Regions from separate parts of the Homo sapiens genome. Here region 2 is linked to region 1. Evidence: fine-mapped expression QTL. A gene starts in region 1. The other region holds a variant in brackets. All regions are shown on one strand. Distances are between the middles of the regions.

Evidence for each region.
Region 2: its variant is fine-mapped to the expression of BAIAP2L2 in gastroesophageal junction (GTEx, PIP 0.93).

Annotation. Positions count from the first base shown.
Region 1 is chr22:38,107,225-38,115,828 of GRCh38, forward strand. BAIAP2L2 (BAR/IMD domain containing adaptor protein 2 like 2) reads right to left here and starts at 3,460. Exons shown (of 14, transcript NM_025045.6): 1 at 3,251-3,460; 2 at 1,909-1,984; 3 at 1,031-1,117; 4 at 628-689. The coding sequence starts at 3,301. It overlaps PLA2G6 (phospholipase A2 group VI), which reads right to left. Exons shown (of 17, transcript NM_003560.4): 14 at 8,303-8,457; 15 at 6,263-6,430; 16 at 5,280-5,353; 17 at 4,271-5,081. The coding sequence ends at 4,937. RefSeq lists enhancers at 7,290-8,192, 7,542-7,721.
Region 2 is chr22:38,070,859-38,085,374 of GRCh38, forward strand. It overlaps SLC16A8 (solute carrier family 16 member 8), which reads right to left and starts at 13,326. Exons shown (of 6, transcript NM_013356.3): 1 at 13,130-13,326; 2 at 12,184-12,503; 3 at 11,802-12,023; 4 at 11,031-11,174; 5 at 9,982-10,821; 6 at 7,279-7,846. The coding sequence starts at 12,015. The coding sequence ends at 7,530. BAIAP2L2 (BAR/IMD domain containing adaptor protein 2 like 2) reads right to left here. Exons shown (of 14, transcript NM_025045.6): 14 at 14,042-14,516. The coding sequence ends at 14,442. LOC105373027 (a long non-coding RNA gene) reads left to right here and starts at 7,783. Exons shown (of 3, transcript XR_938249.3): 1 at 7,783-7,875; 2 at 7,996-8,089; 3 at 8,755-9,509. PICK1 (protein interacting with PRKCA 1) reads left to right here. Exons shown (of 13, transcript NM_012407.4): 7 at 1-33; 8 at 824-886; 9 at 1,619-1,752; 10 at 2,142-2,234; 11 at 2,915-2,965; 12 at 3,449-3,593; 13 at 4,006-4,843. The coding sequence ends at 4,274. RefSeq lists enhancers at 4,102-4,603, 9,688-10,469, 12,810-13,591 and a silencer at 11,785-11,834. The variant G/A (reference allele first, on the strand shown) is at 10,410.

The sequences.
Region 1 (8,604 bases):
CAGGGAGTCAGAGGAGGCTTTGGGAAGGAGGGGACAGCTGCTTCCCAACTGGACGGCAGGGGGAGGGACCGGTGGCTCTAGGCTGAGAGGACAGCAGGACAGCAGCCCCGCAGCGGGGACACCAGCAGAGGGCCCACTCTTCCGGGGGGCTGGGCTGTGTTGGGGGTGTCAGGAGAAGCTGCTGGATCGACAGAGCCAGGGACCCCTCACTGAGAAGCCTGTGTTCAGTTCTACGGGCAGTGGGGCCGTGGAACGGTTCTGCTCCTGGGAGTGACATGGTCAGGTCCATGTGGCTGCTCCCTGGGAGGCTGCAGTGAGGAGGGCTGCAGTGAAAGGACCTTTCTCTTCCTTGGGCCTCCATTCACTCTGGCATCTCAGGCAATGACTAGCTCTTTGAGACTCAGTTTCTTCCTCTATAAAATGGAGGCAGAAATGCCACCAGCCTCCTAGGGCTGCTAGAGGCTTGAACGACTATTGCAGGGAACCGTGCCCCACAGAGCCGGGTGCTGGGAAGGGCAGCCACGGTCATCCTCCCTGGGAAGGGCATCTGGTAGGCTGGGCCCTCTCCTTGGAACATAGCCCACTTTCCTCGAGTGACCCCTCCAGGCCCTGGGGCCTGATACTCACCACCACCTCCAGGTCAGAGTTCAAGTGCCGCTGGGTGTCAGACATCTGCACCAAGATCTCCCCTGGAGGCATGGATGCAGCTGTGGCTTTGGTGTGTGGCAGCCTGCCCCGCCCACCCACCACCCTCTTCCGCTGAAAGCCAACAGAGGGCCTGCCCGAGACTGGATTTTGGGACCAAAGTCCGGGAACTTCCCATATGGTTCTCTGGGAGCCAGGCCATGTGTGTCCCAGCCTGGGAGCAGCCCGGCAGGGAGTGGTGGCGGGGAGCCTGGGCCCCAGAACAAGAGTCTGGCTCTGGGCCCTGGGCTGAAAGGCCTGTGTCAGGGACTCGGGACATCCTGGAAGGGCAAGGGTGCAAAAGGAGGGCCCAAGAATGGGGTCTGCTGTGGAGGGGGAGCCTCACCCAGAATCTGTGAGGTGGGGCTCTGCAGGGCACGCTCCCCAATCTTCTGGATGGCACTGAAGTAGACCTCGGCCGCCTCGGACAGAGCTGTGGACCAGAAGGGACAGGTCTGGTCCAGCCCTGCCTCTGCCCCACCCTTCTGGAGGCTCTTTTCATCTGGAGGGGACTGTGTCTGTCCTGGGTGGGGTGTGGGCATCTGTGTGTGCCCCTGAGGAGGGTGTGACCAGTTGAGCTGTGAAACTCAGGTGCAGGGGCATAAGGTGAGGGCTGGGGGCAGGGAGGTGGCGTGGAAAGCATCTAAGAAGCAGGGGGATGGGAGGCCCTGAGGTTCAGGGTTGATCAGCACTGGTGGGTAGTGGGGTGCTATTGGCAGGTATGAGCGGCCACAGCGGACGGGTACAAGGGTTTGCACGGGGACCGAGTGAATGTCAAGGCCAGCTGCAGGGTGTGTGGGTGGTGGCCAGTTGAAGTGAGGAAGCCAGCTGCTGTGTGAGCCTGGGTGCAGAGGTGGGACTGAGTATAGGGGTGGGTTCAGCTGGTGGCATCCAGGTGACGCCTAGAAATGTATGCACTGTCAGGGGCTGCCCTGGGGCTGTGTGGGCCTGCAGGGCCTGGTACTGCATCATGGGAGTGTCTGGAGGCACCTGAAGGAGGGGGCAATGAGGGGTGCTGGGTGTGGACTGGGGTGCGTGGGCACAGGAGAGTGGGGGTGCATAAGGCCTCTCTGGCTGCAGAGGTGTGAGGGTGAGGGTGGTGGGTAGGAGGGTGTAGGGTTGAGGATGAACAGGTGTGGGATGCAGAGAATCTGGGAGGGGCCTGGGTGGGTGGGAACAGCAGAGGCCCAGGGCTGGGGCTCGGTGGCCCGGGCAGGCACTCACCGTGGAAGGCACGCAGGTAGTTGTTGCCCAGGTACACCAGGTTCTCCAGGGCGGGGTTAAACTGCTCCATGATGCTCTGGACCCCAGGGTCAGGGGAGGAAAAAGGTGTAGAGATGGGGGAGCGAGAAGGAACCACGGATGGAGTCAAGTCACCAGGCGTCAGGGACAGGGCACCCCCAGCCCAGTGAGAAGCCCCAGACTTTGGGGGGCCCATCTACAAACCTAGGCTCACCCAGAATCCTGGCTCTTGGCTGCAGGGACCTCAGAGCCCATCTTTTGGGGTCCTGTTCTAAGCTGTGGTCCCCTCACAGCCAGCTCCCGCTTACGTCTGCTCTGGCGGGACCGAGGTGCCTCCCGAGATGGTGCACCTGGAAGGTTCTCCTCCTCCCGCTGGGCAGAAGCTGGCCCGCCTGCTGTGGTCCCCACTGGGCACGGCTCAGCCCTGCCCTGTGTCCAGGCCTTGCCGGGCTACACGCCTGGGGCTGCCAACAGTCACCCCCGGGGCAAGGGCAGCTCTCGCCCTCCTCCGAGAACAGCCCCCCATGGGCAAGGCTGTGGCTGGATTAGTGTGGGCCTCCTCGGGCTGGGGCCGGGCAGAGAGCTCCCCGGATGGTGAAGACGGGCCTGGACTTGGGCCTGGACTTGGACTTGGGTCTCGGTTCAAATCCCAGCAGCACCTCTTCCTCCCTCCGTGACCTTGAATGAGCTGTTTAACCTCTTTGGTCTCAGTTTTCTCATCTATCAAGCAGGGTGGTCATTTTCCACCTCACAGGTGGGTGGTGTGAGGCCTCCAGGTGAAAGGGTCCTGCACACAGGAGGCGCTCAATAAATGTCTGTGGCGGCTGCAACAACCCCCCGGGGGTGAAGTAGGAAGTCTGAGGGGCTCAGAAATGAGAGAGACAGAGACAGGGAGAGACAGAGAGAGAGAGAGAGACAGAGAGAGAGAGAGACAGAGAGAGAGAGAGACAGAGAGAGGGAGAGAGAGAGGGAGAGAGAGAGAGAGAGAGAGAGAGAGAGGGAGAGACAGAGAGAGAGAGGGAGGGTCTTTCTTTATTCCCAGGCCGGGCAGCCAGGCCCTTCTCATCCAGACTCAACTCTCCCCACCCTGGGCCTTGGGCTCCCTCCTGCCTTGTCCAGCATCTGGGAGTTGGGGGTTCCCGCTGTATGGCTGAGTGCTCTCGGGGATCCTTACCCCCGTACCCACCCCTGGCCCAGCCTGGCTCCAGGCTTCCCTTTCCAGGACATCTGTAGCCCCGGCTGGCCCTCCGTCCTCCAGAGCGGGCCTGATTTCTGTGCCCTGGGAGGAGGGGCTCAGGCCTGGCTTGGCCACCCATGTGCTCACCTTGTAGATGGCCATGGTGGACCTGTAGAACTGGTCCATCTCGGGGGCCATGGAGGGGCTGTCCCGGGTCTGAGCAGGAGGCTGGGAGCTGGTGGCGATGGCACAGCCGGGAGCAGTGGTAGGTAGTCCCTCAGGTGCCCACGACTCAGCTGGCAGCGAGGAAGCCTCGGAGAGGGACCTGGAGATGGAGGCCTGCCTCAGAGGAGTGGCAGCTTAATTATTCACCAACTCGGGATGTCAGAATGTGATCTGGGGCGTAACCAGATCCGGCAGGGAAGGCATCCTGTGCCGGGCAGGCTCGTGTGACCTGCCCTTCAATTATTCACCCCTTGGAGCTGTGGGCTGATACAAGTGCCCATGTGGATGAGCCCCCTCCTGGGTCACCCCCTCCTCAAGGACCCCAACCCTGGGGGGCCCCGCCCTCCCACCTGCCTATACCAGGCATTGCCCACCTTACTGGGCGGGCGCTGCCCGATGCCCTCCCCCAGGACTCTCTCTGCCAGACCCAGCAGCAGCAGCCCCTGGAGGGGAACGCCGCTTTACTTCTCACTGTCCTCAGGCCTGCGGCTCACAGTGGGGCCACGCCCTCTGAGCTTGGCTCCCACAGCCGCTCTGGCCCGCCCAGCTCCTCCACTTGCCGGAGCAGGAGCAGCACAAACGCTGGAGTTGCCCAGCCCTGGGCAGACCTCGGCCCTGCACACGCGCTGCCTGTCCACGCGGAGTCCCCGGCCTCTCTGGGTGACAAATGGGGCTCTCCCTGGTCCTCCAAGATGAAGTTGAAGATTGTGGCCCTCCTTGGGCCTGCCGGGGGTATGTGGGCCTGGCAGCTGCCTCTGCATACCCTAAGGGCCGGTTTAGGGGAGGCCTAGAGGAAAGAGGAGGTGTCCCTGCCCAGGGATCCTGGAAAACAGAGTGTCCGGGTACAAAGGAAAAGTCCGGTCAAGGCCAAGGGTCAAGGCCGAGGGGAGCCGGGGGTCAGGGGAACAGGTGGATCTCACACCACTGCACACACAACACAGGTGAACTTGAATCCAAATGATTTATTTCAGTTTTGGCTCTTAAGCCACTTCCATTGGGAAGAAGAAACTCCCAGGAGTGACCTTTGAGAGCTGAGGGTTCTCGGGGTGGGGCAGTGTGAGGGGCTGGGCCAGTGTGAGGGGCAAAGTCCAACGGGCATCCCACTCCTGCGGCCTGGGCTTTCCCAGCTGATGGGGTGGGGGACACCCATTTCTTTAGTCCCAGCCCCCAGGGAACGGAGCAGAGGGCAGAGGGAGTGGGCTGCACCCACCAGGAAGCCTGGGAGTGCCCTTGCTGGGGGCTGGGGCAGAGGCAGCCCGGCAGGCCCTCAGGGAGGCTGGGGCTGGGGGCAGGGGTACGGTTGTGCCCGGGTACCCTTAATGTTTGAGCTGATGGGGGAGTCAGTTGTCCTTGACAGTCAGGGAAAGGGGCCAAAGGGGGCTCTAGACTTTCCCAGCCTGGAATGACAGAAAGTGCTGGAAGGCGGGGTTAGTGGGAGACAGGCCTTCAGGACCAGCCTCGGGCAGGCAGCTTGGCATTCTCCCAGGCCTGGTCTATGGACTCAGAGGTGCCTGGGCCCAGATCTGCCCGGGAGGGCAGTGGCTGGGCTTGGCCTGGCAGGGGCTGAATGGACGAGGTCAGCTGGGGCCGGTGAGAGGCTGGGGACCCTCAGGGTGAGAGCAGCAGCTGGATGAGCTTCTGGAACTCCTCGCGGTGCTCATAGATGTAGACCTCGGTCTCCCAGAGGGCGTTGACCAGCACTGTGTCACTGACCTCATCCAGCATGATGTCCGTCCCCAGCTGGGGGTTCAATCTGTTCGGGCCAGGGAGGAGGGGGTCACCCTAGGATGCTCAGGCTGGGCAGGGGACGCCAGCTAGGACCAGGGTGGGCTTGGGGAACAGAGCAGACCCTTGGGGAAGGGAAAGTCCACACTAGGGCTGGGAGGGGAAGGTCGGTGAGTCCGACCACGCCAGGGCACGGGGCCAAGGGCTGGGGCGGCTGAGCCCTCACCTGAAGTACTGGATGCCGACCATCTCGCACCAGGCCCGTGCCCGGTCCACAGCCCGCCCGTCTGGATCCGTGCACTGGTGAGAAGCAGCCTTGGTGAGTGCCGGGCCCACACCCCGCCCGGCCCGCACCCCGCCCGGCCCTGCCCTGCACTCTCGGAGCCCCAGCCTGGGGAGCCCCAGGCTCTTTCGAGTCAGGCTGAGCCACACAGCAGCAGAGCGGCTCGGGCAAAACCCCTTCCTGGGACTGCAGGGACTGTCCCAGCTGTGCAATCAGAGGGGCAGAGGTCTCAGCAGTGCCCTTTCAGGGATGATGAGTGGGGGAAAGGGTAGCGGCTGAGTCGACAGGCCTCCATGTCCCCTCTCCCTGAAGTTTCCCTCCCTCCCTCCTCTCTCTCTCTCTCTCTCTTTCTTTCTTTCTTTTTGAGACAAGGTCTCCTTCTGTTGCTCAGGCTGGAGTGCAGTGGCATGATCACAGCTCACTGCAGCCTCTGCCTCTTGGGCTTAAGCAATCCTCCCACCTCAGCCTCCTGAGTAGCTGGGACCACAGGCACACACCACCATGTCCAGCTAGTTTTTAATTTTTTGGTAGAGACAAAGTCTCATTATATTGCTCAGGCTGGTCTCAAACTGCTGTGCTCAAGTGGTCCGCCTGCCTTGGCCTCCCAAAGTGCTGGGATTACAGGGTGAGCGCCCAGCCCGCTCTGGAGCCTTTGTCCATTCTGGGCTTCTACACTGCGCTATGTTTGCAGAAAGGGATCCGCAGCTAAAAAGCGTTTGAAAACCCCCCTGCTGGTGGTCACTGAGGGTCCCTGCCCCGCACTGAGACTCTGAACTGTGGACTCTCTCTCCCTCCAGCTGGCTAAAGGCGATGGACAGAGCCCTGCTGTCTCCTCCAACACCAAAGGCCCCACAGGATGAGGGGAAGCCATCGACCTGGGCTACAGACCCTGAGGGAAGTGGCCTGGGGGAGGGGCCCACACTCACACAGTCCACCACCATCTTGCCCAGTTCCTTGGCCCCAAAAACAGTCTTGGCCAGCTCCCAGGGGTTGCTGGGACGGAAGACATCCACACAGGTCACAGGCACTTGTGGGGACCTCCCTGTCCCCAGGGAGACAACGATGGAGAGTTTCTTCACCTTGTTGGCCTGACCCTGTTGGGAACAGGACAGGGGCAGTCAGAAGAGACCTTCCACAGGTAGGGGGCACGAAGGGGAGCGTCAAGGGGAGGCCCAAGACTGGGCTCTGGGGCACATGAGAACAGGGCAAGAGGTCTCTGGTGGCAAGAGCATGCCTGGCATGATTTCCAGCCAGCCTCTTGCACGTGACCCCAGAACGGCTGGTGCGGGCATCACATGCCATCTGCTCAGGACAGCATCTGTGTACCAACAGGACCACACATACACCAGCTGCAAGAAGGATCCCGCCCACCCCATCTGATGCTGGCCCAAGTCAAGTCGTGGCCAGGGGAGGAAAGGCAGACGGTGTTCCTTGGTGTTGGTGATTTGCCAGGTATTTGCATCATTACTTCATTTAATCTCCAGCCAGTCTGTGGAGAGGGCACTGATCACCCAGTTTGCAAATGAGGGCTCTCAGCGAAGCTCAGGCCGGGAAGCAGCTGCAGGGGCCACGTGGTAGGGAAGTAGGGGCTAAGGCTTGAACCTGAGCCCTGGGTGCTGCCTTTTTTTTTTTTTTTTTGAGACGGAGTCTCGCTCTGTCTCCCAGTCTGGAGTGCAGTGGCGCGATCTCGGCTCACTGCAAGCTCCGCCTCCTGGGTTCACACCATTCTCCTGCCTCAGCATCCCGAGTAGCTGGGACTACAGGCTCCTGCCACTATGCCCGCCTGGCTAATTTTTTTGTATTTTTAGTAGAGACAGGGTTTCACCGTGTTAGCCAGGATGGTCTCGATCTCCTGACCTCATGATCCACTTGCCTCGGCCTCCCAAAGTGCTGGGATTACAGGCGTGAGCCGCTGCGCCCGGCCGCTGCCTCTCTTATTTGCTTCCGAACAAGCTCTGCTGCCGATTTGCTGGATGATCTTGGGTGATGCCTCCCACTCTGGGTCCCAGGCTCCCCATCCGCACGCAATAGGAGAGTTAGACTGGCTAGTGTCTGACAGTCTGACGGTCTCTGCCGCCTGCAGGAAGCCCGCCCTGCCCGATCTGGCCCCTAGAGGGCGCTTCTCTGTCTGCCCAGAGCCTCTGCTGCGCTGCCCAGGACGCCCTGGGGCTTCGGGAAACCACAGCAGCAAGGATGCAGCTCAGGCTCCCGGCAGTGCTGTGAACATTTCACAGACAACAGCATGCCAAGGCCTCGCAGCCTCCCCAGGCAGGCGCTATGATGGCCCCATTAGGTAGCTGCAGTGAGTGCAGGCAGAACGGGGACCCCCAGAGGCGCCCTGGCTCCAGGGTCTGAGCTCAGCCACCGCGCTCGCCCACCCCGGTCACCCACCGCCCGCCACGCCACAGGGCCTCCCCTAGCATGCTGGGTCCTGCCAGCCTCTGCTGTACCTCTGCAGAGAGAGGGCTGCTGCTCTTCCTCCAGATCACTGATTCTGCACTGCTCTGTCCCCAAGGGCCTCAGGATGGGTCCCCTGTTCCATGGAGCCCTTTCCGAGCCCCCAGGCCTTTTAGCAGAGGCCTCACGGTCCTCCACCACAGCACCGGCAACCCGTGGGGACAGGCATTCCTGTGGGACTGTCTATCCACAGAGGTGAGCTCAAGGGCAAGCATGTGTCCTGTCCCCAGGCTGGCTCGAGTGGCACGTTCATGGTATGCATGCCGCCCTCCCCACTCATGCACACTTAGAGCACAGTGGTCCTCAGATCCCCCTTAGCACAGTGCTTCAGGCAGATCCCACCCATGGAACAGGTTCCAGTGAGATCAATTTGCCCTGTGTGCACATATGAATGAGTGCGTGTGTAAAAGCCACCTGCTGTCCTGGGGGTCGGTCCCTAGCATGGTTTGCTGACACAGGATTGGCTCCAGGGAGCAGTGGGTCCAGGCCCTCTGGCCTACGGCACTCACCTTGCGGATCAGGTCCTGATTGTACTCATGGATCTCGGTCATGGCATCCAGCGTGGGGTTGTTGGCCAGCAGCCCACCGTCCAGGAAGCGCCCATTGGGTCGGAAGTAAGTAGGAGCTGCCCCGCTGCTTCGGGCCGCCCGCCACACCAGCTGGTCTAGGGGCGGGGAAGGAGGGCGGCCCAGTGGCACAAGGGACTGGCATAAAACCCATGCACTCCAGATCTCAGGGTGTGCGTGTTGGGGGCTGGGGGTGCGGGAAGAGGGGAGGCTGGGAACTCTTCAGAAGCAGGACCCACGAAGCC
Region 2 (14,516 bases), 33 kb before region 1:
AGGAGCTGGAGCGGACCGCTGAGCTATACAAAGGTGGGTGGGGGGTGGCCTCGTCCTGGCACTAGCTCTACCCCAGGGAGCATGCTCTCAGCAGAGTGGCAACAGGGGTGCTGGCACTAGGAATGCCAGCCTACAAAATACTAGGACCATGGGCATTAAGAGTTCTTAAGAATATATACTTCTTCTGAATTTAAAAATAACTCAGGGGCCTGGTGCAGTGGCTCACGCCTGTAATCCCAGCACTTTGGGAGGCTGAGGTGGGCGGATCACTTAAGGTCAGGAGTTTGAGACCAGCCCGGCCAACATGGTGAAACGCCATCTCTACTGAAAATACAAAAATTAGCCAGGCATGATGGTGTGTGCCTATAATCAGTACTCGAGAGGCTGAGGCATGAGAATCGCTTGAACCAGGGAGGCAGAGGTTGCAGTGAGCCAAGATCACACCACCGCACTCTAGTCTGGGCAATAGAGCAAGACCCTATCTCAAAAAAAACAAAACCTGATACTCATAAAAATTCAGAGAATAGCACTTGTAAACATAGCGAGAGTCCCCCGGAATCCCACACTGTCCCAGGGCTAAAGCCCACAGCAGGCTGTGTACCCCTGCATCTTACAAAATGCTGGCGCCCCTGTCTGATGGGGCTCCTCACGGGTTGGGTCGGACTGAGCTTTTACCCCTGGGCTGTGGTTGGGCGGTGGGGAAAGGCCATGTATCAGGGCCTAGCAGAGGCCTTGGGTGGCATGGGCAATTGGAGGCCTTGCCCTGGGCCAGTGTGGTCCCCGCCATGCGTCCCCATTCCGCATCACTCGGTCTCTCCCACAGGGATGACGGAACACACCAAGAACCTCCTACGGGCCTTTTATGAGCTGTCGCAGACTCACCGGGGTAATGGCATCCCCCAAAGCTGTGGTGTGACCGTGGGCAATCCCTGGGGCCTCTCACTCCCATGCTGAGGTGGGTCAGACCCACAGCGCCTGACCTCAGGCTCCCTCTGGGCTGGGCCTGGTCCCAGGTGCTGGGATTTGCGATGGGCCTGCGGGGAACATCTAGATCAGCTGGTCTCTTAAGGGCCGCAACGATGAACAGGCCCCACCCTGTCTCCTCACACTGCCACTGGCAGTACACAAGGCCCTTGCTTATTTATATTTCTGACAACCTGTAACTCTGGGCAGGCCGACTGCAGCTGACCCCAGCTACTGCAGAAAATGAAGCCCAGACAAAGGAGAGGGCCACACTGCTCCCAAGTGGTGGAGCTGTTGTTCCAATCCAGGTGTCTAGACTCGGACCAGTGTTCTGCCTCAGGCGGCGCCACCTCCACAAACCTTGACCCAGTCTTCTCTCACTGGTCCCTCTGGGGAATGAGGGCCAACTCCCTTGGTGTGTACACTCAGGACTCTAGGGGGCACAGACCAGCTCTTGGAGGTGTCAATCCAGTTTCCTCCAGGTGTAGACTCAGCTCCTTCAGGGGGTTTAGACCAGCTCTCTTGGAGGTGTAGCCCCTGTGCAGACATTGGCTTCCAGCCTGCCAGGCCCCCTGCCCTGCTTCTCCCCAACAAACCCCTGGCTTCTCTTAGGGGGCCAAGTAGGGGCAGCCTTCAAGGCAAACTTGTCCTGCAGCCTTTGGGGACGTGTTCTCCGTGATCGGGGTGCGGGAGCCCCAGCCAGCTGCGAGCGAGGCTTTTGTGAAGTTCGCCGATGCCCACCGCAGCATCGAGAAGTTCGGCATTCGGCTTCTGAAAACCATCAAGCCGGTAGGTCCTATTGAGCATGTGTGTGTCTGGCGTGTGAGGGTGGGGAGGGGAGAGTGTGGCATGCAGAGAAGGTCGTATGCTGGAGTCCTGTGCCTGGGTACAGCCTCTGGCTCAGTCACCCACACAGTGGACTGTGGGTGAGTCACTGTGCCCCCTTGGGCCTTGCCATTGACCTCTGGGCTGGCTTCTGACCCTGGCTCGCCACTGAGTCACAGCTTGCCCTAGGCCTGGCACTAGTCTTCTCATCCTTGAGAGGGACAAGGCATCAGGGAGCACCATCTGGCTCTGATAGTCGAGTCCACCAACAAGGGTGACGCATCAGTGCCATTCATTGTCACCCTGGCACACCCCTGCCGTGACAGCCTCAGCATCCACCCACCCTCTTCCAGATGCTGACGGATCTGAACACGTACCTCAACAAAGCCATCCCGGACACTCGCCTCACCATCAAGAAGTACCTGGACGTGAAGTTTGAGTACCTGGTGAGTAGTCCAGGTGCCCAGGCTGCTAGGGCAAGCGCCCACCCTGGAGATCTGCCCCACTTCAGTCAGCCATGCTGCGGCCAGCGAGGCCAGCCAGAGCTGACAGCATGTCTGCTCCAGGTGTGGGCCCAGAGGCCCAGGGAGGTGCAGCCAAAGCCCTGCTGCGCCTGCACAAAGAAGCATCTGAGAGCCTGGGGCGGGCATGGCTCTCGCTGTGTGCACTCTGACCCCTTGGGATTTGTTGCCTTTAAACAATGGGTTAGACTAGGTGAGTGAGCATAAAATGGGTGTCAGTGAACGTTCGTGAGTTTTACATTTAATTATTCTACAGTCAAAGGAATTGAGAGAAAATGCTCTATTAAGCAAGCCAAGGTTCCTTTGCTGCAGGACTTATCAGAGCCTTTGCTAGGCTGATGTGCAGTGTGAATTTTCAAGGGTCTTCCTAAGCTCCTTTAACGACAGACCCCTTTTTCCCCAGAGCATCTCTTGGGCCTTGAGTTTGGTCAACTCGGCCGCCTAAGCCTCAGGCCCTGTCATCCCTCAGCACCTGCCGCTGCCCGCTCTGGGACTCCCTGAACACCTGCGCCAGCCTCTCCTGCTGCGTGTGGGTGATGGGGGTGGAGCTGGGGACCTGGGGTGGGGGTAGTAGCCACTCTGACAGCCTCACCTGTCCCACACAGTCGTACTGCCTGAAGGTGAAGGAGATGGATGACGAGGAATACAGCTGCATTGTGAGTGTTGGAGGGGGTGGGGGGCTTGTACTTCCCCCCACCTGGTCTGCCAGGGATAGCAGGTGGCTCAGGCCAACCCGGGAGAGACCGGGGGGACTTGGCTGGACTCTCGTTCCTGGAGATTTAGGGCCATCTTCCCAGTCCCGCTCGCTGGGCCTCGGGGTGCTGGGCACCCGGCCGGGAACCACTCCCTCAGTCTGGGGGACTCTTGGAGGGAAATCGGATTTTCTTCACTCCTATGAGGCGCTTTTAAGTGTTTGATTTTTCTGCTGTCGGGATCCATTTCGTGGCCAGTGTTCATTGAATGTGGCAGAGGTTTGGGTTTGGTTTTTTCCTCTCTTCAAAGCTATCACTGAGTGCTTCTGAGAAACACTGAAGTCTCAGAAATGAGGTCTCAGGAATGAAGAACAGCCGTGGCTTTGAAAGCACAGTGCGGTGCGAGGCCGTCCCTGAGCAGGCACTCCTGTCCCACCCCCGCCCCAGGCCCTAGGCGAGCCCCTTTACCGGGTGAGCACCGGCAACTATGAGTACCGCCTGATCCTGCGCTGCCGCCAGGAGGCGCGCGCCCGCTTCTCCCAGATGCGCAAGGATGTGCTGGAGAAGATGGAGCTGCTGGACCAGAAGCACGGTGAGCGCCGCCCTCCTCCCCGTCCGCTCTCCATTTCAGAGGTGGGAAAACTGAGGCCCAGAGGGGTACTCTCAGGGCCAGGCCACGGCCCAGATGTAAAGCCCCTCCAGGAGCCCAGCCATCTGCCCAGAGCCTGGCCTGGGTGGAGCTGGCCTGTGCGCGTGGGCTCCGTGGGCTGCCATCCATGATCCATTTACCCTGCAGCCTCCTGCGTTCCCTGAACTGGGAGCGGGGAGGCCCCGGGCTGGGCGGCCCCTGCCTCCGCCCCTTGCCAGGTCATGAGGGGTCAGGGAAGTGCCCGAGTGGGAAGCCCAGGGGAGGCGAGAGGTGGGCCGGGTGGGCTGGGAGAGTCTCCTCCCTGAGGCAGGCAGCCAGAGCCCACTGCAGCCTGTCCCCCGACCTCCCACCCCAGTCCAGGACATCGTGTTCCAGCTGCAGCGCCTCGTGTCCACCATGTCCAAGTACTACAACGACTGCTACGCAGTGCTGCGGGATGCCGACGTCTTCCCCATCGAGGTAGACCTGGCGCACACCACATTGGCCTATGGCCTCAACCAGGAGGAGTTCACAGATGGGGAGGAGGAGGAGGAGGAGGAAGACACGGCAGCTGGGGAGCCGTCCAGGGATACACGAGGGGCTGCTGGGCCCTTGGACAAGGGTGGAAGCTGGTGTGACTCCTGAGTGCCCCGCGGCTGTGGTGCCGGGGGCAGGGTGCGTGGGAGGACGGAGCCTGGGAGCGGGGCGGGGCCGCCGCGCAAGGGGGCGACGCATAAAGGCCTGCTGGCTTGGGGCGCCTGCCTCCCTGCTCCTCTGTCCTCGCACAGCGAACCTGGGCTCCTGCCCAGGACAGGCACCAGGGTCATGGCCTGGGACCTGGACACTGGCCCCTCCACCCTCCCTCCCCTCCCGGCTCCCCGGCCAGAGGGAGAGCTTGGTCTCTGGACCTGCCTTAGGAAGGAGAGGGAGGGCAGGAAGGAAAAGAAAGGACTTGGAGGTGGCAGGAGTCCGAGCCCTGCTCCTTGTGGGCGCTCACACTGCCCCCGGAGCCTGCTGGGAGTGGGGCCAGCCGTGGACAGCTGAGGTTGGGGTCAATGCCTCCTGGGCACCCTTGCCTCGCCCCAGACCGGCCCGTCCAGTCCCCATCACACCTCGGCGGCCTTTATTTATTCTGTTCCCCCAGCTCGGCCACTTCTCTGAAGGAGGGCTGGGTTCTGGGCCTGTATCGAATAAACACAAACCTGGATGGCGCAGTGGTCGCAGTGGCTTCAGACCCTCCTTGTCTGCCCCTCCCCTCCACCGTCTATTGACAGCGCCCTTGCTATGCACCATTTATGCCTCACTGAAGTGTTGCAGGGCTAGCACTGTGGTCCCCTCACAGCTGGTGATTTGAGGCTCAGAGAAAGATCTTGCCCAAGGCCACGCCCTGTGTGGGGACACAGTGGGTTTTAACTCAGATCTGTCCTGAAGGCCTGACTTTGCCACCTGCCTCCAAAGCTTTCTGCTTTGTGGAACCTTTTGTATCTCACCCCCCGCCCCCTTCCCCCGCCCCCAATCTGTGACCTTTCTGTGCTTCCGACAGGAAATAAACCTCTGGGGGAGAGAAGGGCAGACATGGAGCCAGGGCGACTGAGCCCCCAAGTAGGGGAGGGTGGTGAGGGGTAAGTGCTGACTCCAGGCGCGCCTGTGCTGCCCGGGTGGTGGGGAAAGGCGTGTGGGGAGAGGTGCTCGGGGGCTGTGGGAAGAGGGGCGTGGGGAGAGGCCATGGGGAGTGTCTGCAGAGTGGCAGAAACAGGGTGGCCACTTCTCCTGCTTCTCCTGGCCAGCCTCGGCCTGGTGTAATCAGTCATAGTGGCCCTTGTCACTCTAACGTGTTCCTGTTTGGACGATGAATATGGCCATCCTGAGAATGCGAGGGGGCAACAGGGTGTGCGAGGTGGGCTGAGTCCAGGATGGAAAAAGGGTTTCTGCATCAGCTTTGAGCATGCATTGCTGGGCAGAAACCCAAATGGGAGGCTTGGCAGGGGTGGGACATGGAGGAGGGGCTGGCTGTCACCAGGAGCCCACCTGGGTCCCCGCAGAGCCATCAGACAGACCACACTGCCTCCCTGAAGGGGGCAGCCAGAGTGGAGGCCAAGAGCACAGGCTGGAACTGACAGCCTGGGTTCGTTCCTGACCTCCCTGGGCCTCAATTTCCCTATCTGAAGTGTGGCACCTACCTTATTGGCTTGTTAGGAGATTAAATGAACATCTGGAGAGGGCTTAGAACAGGGCTTGGCACAGAGCAAGCACTCTTAAATCTTAAATAAAGTCAGACGGGCCGGGAGCGGTGGCTCACGCCTGTAATCCCAGCACTTTGGGAGGCCAAGGCGGGCGGATCACGAGGTCAGGAGATCGAGACCATCCTGGCTAACACGGTGAAACCTCGTCTCCACTAAAAATACAAAAAATTAGCCAGGCGTGGTGGCGGGGGCCTGTAGTCCCAGCTGCTGGGGAGGCTGAGACAGGAGAATGGTGTGAACCTGGGAGGCAGAGCTTGCAGTGAGCCGAGATTGTGCCACTGCACTCCAGCCTGGGCAACAGAGCGAGACTCCATTTCAAAAAAATAAATAAAAAATAATAATAATAAAGTCAAACGCAGTCACTGCTCTAGTGGTGCAGGGGAAGCCACAGGCCATATAAGTAGAAGCCGGCCAGGCATCTGTGGGGCTCCCCAGACCTTCCTGGGGCCTAGATGGAAAATGAGGGCCAGCAGGGACCAGTGGGGAGGGGTCACTATGGGCCGGGCTGGAAGGTGAGGGGAGTTTGCGGAGGGAAGGCGGCTTCCTCTGCAGGGGCCTGTTCACCACGCTCATGATTCGGAGGGAGGCAAAGAAAGGAGGGGTGTGATGTATGGGAGGAGGATAAATGCATAGAGGGAATACATCGCGTCTTGCCAGATTCGTGCACCTGGATCCAAGTGCAGGAGGTCAGATGTCAAAGTGTGAGGGAGATCGTGGGACGCTCCGTGGGGAGAAGGCAGGTGCTGGGATCAGCAGATGACCTGGCTGCCAGCACAGTGTCCACAGCAAAAGCCCCTGGCCCTGGACACCCAAGTTTATCCTCTAGTGGGAGAGATGCCCTCTGGGAAGGTGAGGGGACATGGCCACCTCGTGGAAGGCAGCAGGGCCCATGGTGTTACTGAGCGCCTGGTCCCACCCTCCCCAGGACCCCAGGGGACGGAGTCGTATGCTCAGCCTCCAGTGAGCAAGGAAGTCAGCGGGGCTGGGATTCAAACCGACCCTGACCCTGGGAACTGTGAGTCTTCTCAGACCGCTCGGGCCCCCCGCCTGCAGGCAGACCCCAACCTTGAACCCTAGTTGCTGCCAACCCCTCGTTCCCTCCACGGGAAAAGGCAGATGCCAGCGAGGGGGCCTTCAGCAGACAGCTCTGAGCAGTGGGGCTGGGCAGGAGCCAGGCACTGTGCCCACCCAGCCCTGTGCCCCTGAGCCCTGTGCCCGCCCAGCCCCTTGTGTCTCTACACCTGGGAACGATGGGTCTCTTCATCCATCTCTGACGCTTCCTCCCAACACTGCCCACCTAGAAGCCTGCTTAGGGGGCCTGGAGAGAGACCTCCCAGACTCCCTCCCACCACCCTGACCCCCAACTCAGGTGGCAGCCGGAGCCTGGGCGGAGGAATAGAACCTTCTGTCGTTCAGCTGAGCTTTATCACCAGTTTCCTGTTGCTCCATAGCAGCTTCACTGGCGATGGGGCAGGGCCTGGCGGAACTTGGGGCACAGATGAGGGAGGCAGTTCCCAGACACCCAGGGGATCAACTGGAGCCCAGACGTGGACCCCGGGAGTGACCACCCCAGACCAGCCTCCCAGCGTACCAGGCTCTCTGAGACAAGAAGCTGTGTTCCCAAGTCACTGGGCCACCCCACCCAGAGCACCCTGAGTTATACAGACTCGGCAGCCAGCCTCGGCCTCGCCTCTATTTCTGGTTCTGTGGGCTCGCCCCGGGCGCTGAGCACCTCCAGGGCCTCCAGGTTGCCGGGTTCCTCTGCAACAACAGGCAGGGGCTCAGAGTCCCCTTCAGCCTCAGCGTCCTCAGTGTCACTGGCTCCGCCCTCAGTGCCTGGGCCTGACGGGGCAGCTTTAGCACAACGCAGGCAGCAGTTGGTGGCGACAGCCATGAAGACCCCAGCCAGGGCCACCTCAGAGCCGGCCAGGTAGAAGATGATCTCATAGTTCTTCAACACATCCACCAGGCGGCCTGGGGAGGAGGAGGAAGAGGAGGGAGAGGTAAGGTCCTGTGGGGTCCTCCCCTCACTCTCCTGCACTCTCAGGTCAAGGGTGGTGCCACTGACTTGGTGAGGCTCCTGGGTGACACACACATGCCCACTCTTTATTCCTGTTTTACAGATGTAAAACCTCATGTGGATTCTGCCATTTGAAACCTTAAAAATGTCACTTGCTGTCCCTGGACCTCAATTGCTTAAGTGATATGTGGCTTCTGGTGAGGCGTCCCCTCCACCCTCTGATTCAAGCCCCACAAGTGTCCTGTGACTTGCTTGGCAGTGGGGTATCTGGGGTGGGAGCGGGGAGGGGGCCCTGGGCTTAGCTCTGCCCTCCTGGGGGCCTCCACCTCTTGCTGTTGCCATGTAAATGCCCTGGTCCTCAGGGGCTTGGCTTAGTCCTCCCACCCCTCTGTCCCAGGAGGCCCATGAGCATCCCAGACCAAGCCATCATCGGCACAGGTGGGGCTTGTGGGCCAGTAACTCATTTCCTTCTCTATTTCTCAAGGCTTCTATCCCTTGTAGATACTACTTTCAAACTCAGGAAAGTCTCTCTTTTATTATGTTTTTTTTAGGGATGGGGTCTTGCTGTGTTGCCCAGGCTGGTCCTGAACTCCTGAGCTCAAGGGATCCTCCCGACTTGGCCTCTCAAAGTGCTGGGATTACAGGTGTGAACCACTGCACCTGGCTTCAGGAATTTTCTTATTCTTTTGAGACAGGGTCTCACTCCATTGGCCCAGGCTGGAATGTAGTGGTGCCATCTTGGCTCACTGCAACCTCCACCTCCTGGGCTCAAGCCATCCTCCCACTTCAGCCTCCTGAGTAGCTGGAACCAGAGGTGCACGCCACCACACCTAGCTAATTTTGTTTTGTTTTGTTTTGGTAGAGACAGGGTTTTGCCATGTTGCCCCGGCTGGTTTCAGACTTCTGGCCTCAGCCCCCCAAAGCGCTGGGATTACATGCATGAGCCACTACACCCGACCAGGAAAATCTCTTAATTGCAAGTATTTCCCCCTAAAGTGTGGTTTGTCTGTGTGCTCCACCCTCTCTCTAGGTCATTCTCCTCACCCCATGCACCTCCTCTGCCCATCAGATCCATCCAGATTCACACAAGAAATGGAAGACGGTTCCTTGAGGCCTGGGCAGGCTGGTTTTGTGGCCTGCCCACACACTGGCTCAGGGACTTTGCCGTTCTCACTGGGTCAGGTGGGATGACAGAGCTCAGTGAGGGCACTCGATTAGCCCAGCCCTGAAGGAAGGACGAGCAGCTCACCCCATCTCAGTGCAGCCTGCGGCCCCCGCAAGGTGTCCTCCCTGGTTACTGCACCATCTCACAGCCCTCTAGCCTCTGGGACTCAAAGGCAGGCTCCCTTGCTGTTTCAAGATAACTTGACAACCCAGGAAAACCCTCATGTCCCCCACTCCCACCTTTCCAATTTTGGTTCCTGCCTTGCTTGCATAAGGACGCTGTTCCCCCCCAACAAGCCCTGCCCATCCATGCTGTGCCTTCACCTGGGGGATATTCCAGGAAGCCTTCCCTGACCACCCTCATGACGATGACTTCCTAAGGGTGACGGTGACAAGTGCCAGCAGGCCATCTGCACAGTGAAAGACACCAGTGCTTCTCCCCATCTGCCCGCTGAGCACCCCCACTCTGTTTCTGGCCCCAACACCAGTTTCCCAAAGATACTGTCCCCATTCCAGTCACCATTCTAGATGCACCATTCTAAAGGCGTGGGCATTTAGCAGCAGGTACACTGAGGCTCTCATTCTGGGGCTGCAACTTGCGCTAAGGCTTTGTGCCTCAGTTTCCTCATCTGCAAAATGAGAATAAGCACCTGCGCTCCAGATGGCCTTGTGCCAACTGCTTGGGATGGCAGATCTGGCCAGCTACCAGTGTTGCTTTCTTCCCTGCACCTTCCTGGGCTTTTCTGTCCTCACCCAGAGCGGGCGGTCCGGCTTGGAGGAGGGACTAACTGGCCGTGAAGGGGAGTCCACCCACCCGACTGCCCCTTCCCCTCATCCCTGGAAGTTCCATCTGAGACAGGGGGATGGAGCTTCCCTGGGTCTAAGGGGCACTAGGCTCGCCACCCCCTCTTCCTTCGGGGCGCACCGGCAGAGGGCGGTCCGATGAGCACAGCCGCGGCCTCCACGAGCAACACCAGGCCCAGCGCACTGGGGAAGCGGGGCGCGCCCACAGCCGCCATGAGCACCTCGAACTGCAGCGCGCCCACCATGCCGTAGGAGAGGCCGAAGGCGACGCAGAAGGCGACGAGGGCGCCGTAGGAGCGCGCGCGTGCGCTGCTCAGGTCTGTGAGCCCATTGGCCAGCAGGGCCAGGCTGAACAGATACGGGACGTGCGGCCGCAGACGCGCCAGGCCCGCCAGGGCGCCGCACGCCGGGCGCGCCACGATGTCCACGAAGCCCACGATGGACAGCAGGAAGGCGGCGTCGGTGTCGGGCACGCCCGCGTCCTTGGCGTAGTTCACCAGCAGGATGGCGGGGACGAAGAGCCCGAGCGCCATCAGGAACTTGGTGACG[G/A]CGTACACGGCGAAGGCGCGGTCGGTGCACACTGCCAAGTCCAGCAGGCGCCGGCGGGGCCGGACCCTGGGGGATGCCTCGCGCAGCTGCAGCCCCGCACCGTCAGCCTCCGCCTCGCCCGGAGCGTCCCCGGCGCGGTCGCCGGCGCTGTCCCTGCGCGGTCGCGGGCCCGGCCCGGGCGGCGGCCTCATGACAGCCCCGCAGGCGCAGCAGTGCAGCAGGAGCCCGCCGAGCAGCAGGAAGCCGCCGCGCCAGCCGAAGCGCTCCAGCAGCTGCTGGCCGAGCGGCGACAGCGCGGACAGGAACACGGGGCTGCCCGCCGCCGCCAGCCCGTTGGCCAGAGGCCGCCGCCGCTCGAAGTACAGCCCCAGCATGATGAGCGACGGCTGGAAGTTGAGGGCCAGGCCCAGGCCTGCGGGCGAGGCGGTGCTGTGCCGGGGTCCCCGGAGAGCCCCTCCCTGGCCCCCACAGGAGGGAGGGGCCAGGCCCGGGAACCCAGCAGATCCGGGAACCCAGCCGAGGGACTTCGAAGACTGTCCCTCATAGGGAAACCGAGGACAGATCTTGCAGCAAGAACCCCCGACCCCCAACCCAGCGGAGAGGAGACCAGGGGGCCCTCACCTGTGAGCACCCCAGCGGTCAGGTAGAGCTCCAGGAGGCGCGTGGCAAAGGAAGCTAGGATCATGCCCGCGGAAGCCAGCAGCCCACCCGCCAGCATCACCGGGCGACAGCCAAAGCGGGTCACGAGGATGCTGGACACGGGGCCTGTGGGCAGGGCAGGGTCACCACCCGGGTCCCGGGATGGCTTGAGTCCTCTAAGGAATAAGGTCACCTCCGGCTCAGGGACACAGAGAGGAGGGCAGTGTCTGGCCAAGGTCACACAGCTTGGAGGGGACAGGCCAAAGAGACAGCATCCTGCGAGGGCAAGGCCCAGAGCACCCCATCCTGCGAACCCAAACCCCAAGCGGAGCGGGGGCTTCCGCACCCCTTTAACCTTCACAGCCTCCAAGTCCCGCCCTGGCACAGACTGGGATTCCTCCGCAGCCCCGCCTCCCAGGATGGGAACTCCAGCAAGCCCCCACCTACAGGTCAGGGCTGCGGGGAGGGGGAGTGCTTCTGTGGCTCTCAGCTTTCCTGCCTCTACAATGGGCGGGTGTGGTCTTAGAAGGGGCCCTCTGAGCTCGCAGGGCAGCCCCCTGGGCCGGCCCCGCCTCTGGCCGCTGTCTCCCTCCCGCCCTCTCTTCCCCTCTTTCTGGTGCCAGGGTTCCCACAGGCAGGAAGGGACTTCGGGGGCCACCCCGAGGGTCAGGGGGATGCTCAGGGGCTCGGGTGTCTCCTGGTTCCGGATCCCAGGGGTCCCGGGGAGGCGGAGGGCCGGGCGGGGACACTGACCCGTGCCGTAGAGCATGGCTAGCATGATGGAGGACACCCAGGCCGTGTCGCTGTAGCCGGCGTCGAAGTCGCGCATGAGCGCGCGGAAGAAGACGCTCACGGCTTTGGGGAAGCCGTAGGCGAAGCCGGTGACCACAAAGCAGGCGCCCAGCACCACCCAGCCCCAGCCGCCGTCTGGGGGGCCCTCGCCCCGCCGGGGGCCGCCAGCGCCCATCGCTGCCTCTGTTGGGAGGGGGCGGGGACAAGAGGGAGGGGCTGGGCCAGCAGCCTAGAGAAGGAGGGGGATGGAGACGAAGCATGGGGAAACTGAGGCACAGGGCTACCCACGTGAGGGTGGCTCAGGTCTGGGAACCAAAAGGGGAAACGGAGGTAGGACTCTCACCCCAAGTCTCCTTCTCCTGCAAAGGGCGCTGAAGGACGAGGGGAGGACGACGGGTCCCACCTGACTCTGCACCTCTGCAGGCTCCCTCTGAAGGACAACTGCTGGCCCCTCAGGGCCTCAGGTGGAAGGCGTCGGGAAGTGGAGCAGGTATGTGCCTGGAGGTGGGCGTCCAGCACCAAAGTCGCCCCGTACGCGTGAGGGTCTCGGGACAACAGAACAAACAGCAGAGGGGCAGATGCCGGCTGCAAAGGGCCGCTGTGCGTGATTTTCCTCTTTAGCCTTCCGCCATGTTCCTAATGTTTCTCAGTGATCACAAATGACTATTGTCATTAGAACATTAAGGGGACAAAAGCCACTTTCAACAGATATCAGCCAGGGGAGCTGAGTTCCCATGCATCTCAGCTCAGCCATGGATTCCCTCCCTGACTTGGGCCGGTCGCCTCCCCTCTCCCAACCTCCCTTTCCTCCGATGTAAGATGGGTGATTGATCACCCCGAGGCCAGCTGGGAATCTTGCGGGAGAGGAGTCAGGTCTCTGGCTTCTGCCAGACAGGTAGGAACCTTAGCAGCACTGAGAGAGTGGCCTTCTGCCCTCCAAACCTCAAACCCTCTATATGAAAAGAATGGCTCCAAAGCCTGTCTCATTCCTGGGGCTCCACCCGGGGCCCTCACAGCAGTTACAAGCGCCCCCATAACAGATGAGGAGGGTGTACTCAGAGACAGGTGCACCAGGAGCCGGGGGCTGGGGATAGCCTCCTGCCCTCCTGCCTGGAGTGTCCCTCCTGGCACTGGGCAGTGCCACCACCCCCAGGGTATCCGGGACTCTGCCCCTCCTCCACTAGGACCAGGTTGTGGCTTTTCCTGCCTGTTGTCCTCTTGTCACAGGGGCAGCCACTTGAAGGTGGAGACAGGAGGGTGATCCCAGGCAGCCCTCACATCACACTCACCTGAGCCTGCCTCGTGGGTTTGGGGGTCCAGCCTCACATCTCCTGAGGCCTGCAGGGAGGGGCCGCCGCCGCAGCTCCCGGTGAAGCTTACCCGGATGGGGGCTGCCAGACACCCCAGCTTCCCACCAGCCTGGGCTGAGCCTCTGGCCGACTCCCGCCTGACGCTCCCTGCCCCAGGCCTGGAGCTTAGAGTGTGTGCCCCCACCACACCTCACCCCTGCTAAGAGGCTTTTGTCCAGGAGGGGAGAAGAGACTGGGAGCCCCAGGCCAGGCTGGGCCTCGGCGGTGGGCTCCCTGTCCCAAGCCAGTCCAGGAGGGAGGAAGAGAATCCCTGTGCCTCCTGGAGCCTGGGGTGGTAGACACAGAGACCTTGCCCAGGGGGTCCTAGTCTGGTGCTGGGGGCACAGCCCTGCCCTGAAGAGACCCCAACGGTTCTAATCACCTCAGTGCCTCATCTGCCCCCGCCCCAACCCCCCGCCCCAGGCCACATTCCAGGAGGGGCTGGCAGCTTTCTCTAGAATGAAGCTAATCCACGCCTGTGCCTGGGAATGTGGGGGGGGGAGGGGCCAAAACAAAGGGTGCTGTGTCCAGGCCGCCTGAGGGCAGCTTGCTGGTGGTCCCAGCCCTTGGCCACTGCCACCTCTCCCCTGACCCGAGCAGCCGCTACTTCCTAGGAAACCCACAGGTCGAAATGAGAGCAGGTGGAGATGGGGGCTGCAGCGCGAGGGCTTTGGGGCAGCCCTAAAGAGTTCTCCAAACAAACAAACAAGGGGCTGGGAGTGAGATGGCTTCCCGGGGAACAGCCAGGACCTCAGTACCCCCTAGACCCCATTCTCCAATGGGGGAGTCTCTATCCCTCACCCCCTGCCCTGTCCCCCAAATAAGACACCACCAGTCCTGCTGCCGCATCACTTTGCGTCCACTTCCTTTATTTCTCATCATTTACAAAAGATGTACAGAGAGGGCATGTGTTGGGCACGGAGCAGGTACAAGGGGCTCCTCCCCACGGGGGCAGAAAAGGGGGAAAGAGGTTAGGGGGCAAGAGGTGGGCCCCCCAGGGAGAGTCCTGGAGCCCCTGGAGGGGGAGAAATTGTCCTGTCCCCCCATTCCGCCTGCTTTACTTTGAAGGTCTCGGACCCCAAGCCAGTGCTTTGGAGCTGCTCAGGCTGCCGGGGTGGTCTGGGGAGGGCAGCCACCCCCCGTCTCAGGGACCCGCTTCTTGGATCTGCTGCTGTTGCTGCTGTCGCTGCCATTGCCAGCTCTGAACAGCCCCTGGGCAGGTGCACTGTGGGGTACGACCTCGGACCCCGCCTCAGCGGATGAGGGGTGCTGAGCGGTCATTGGTGATGGTGGGACGAAGCTTGACAGTGGCAAAAGGATTTGTGCC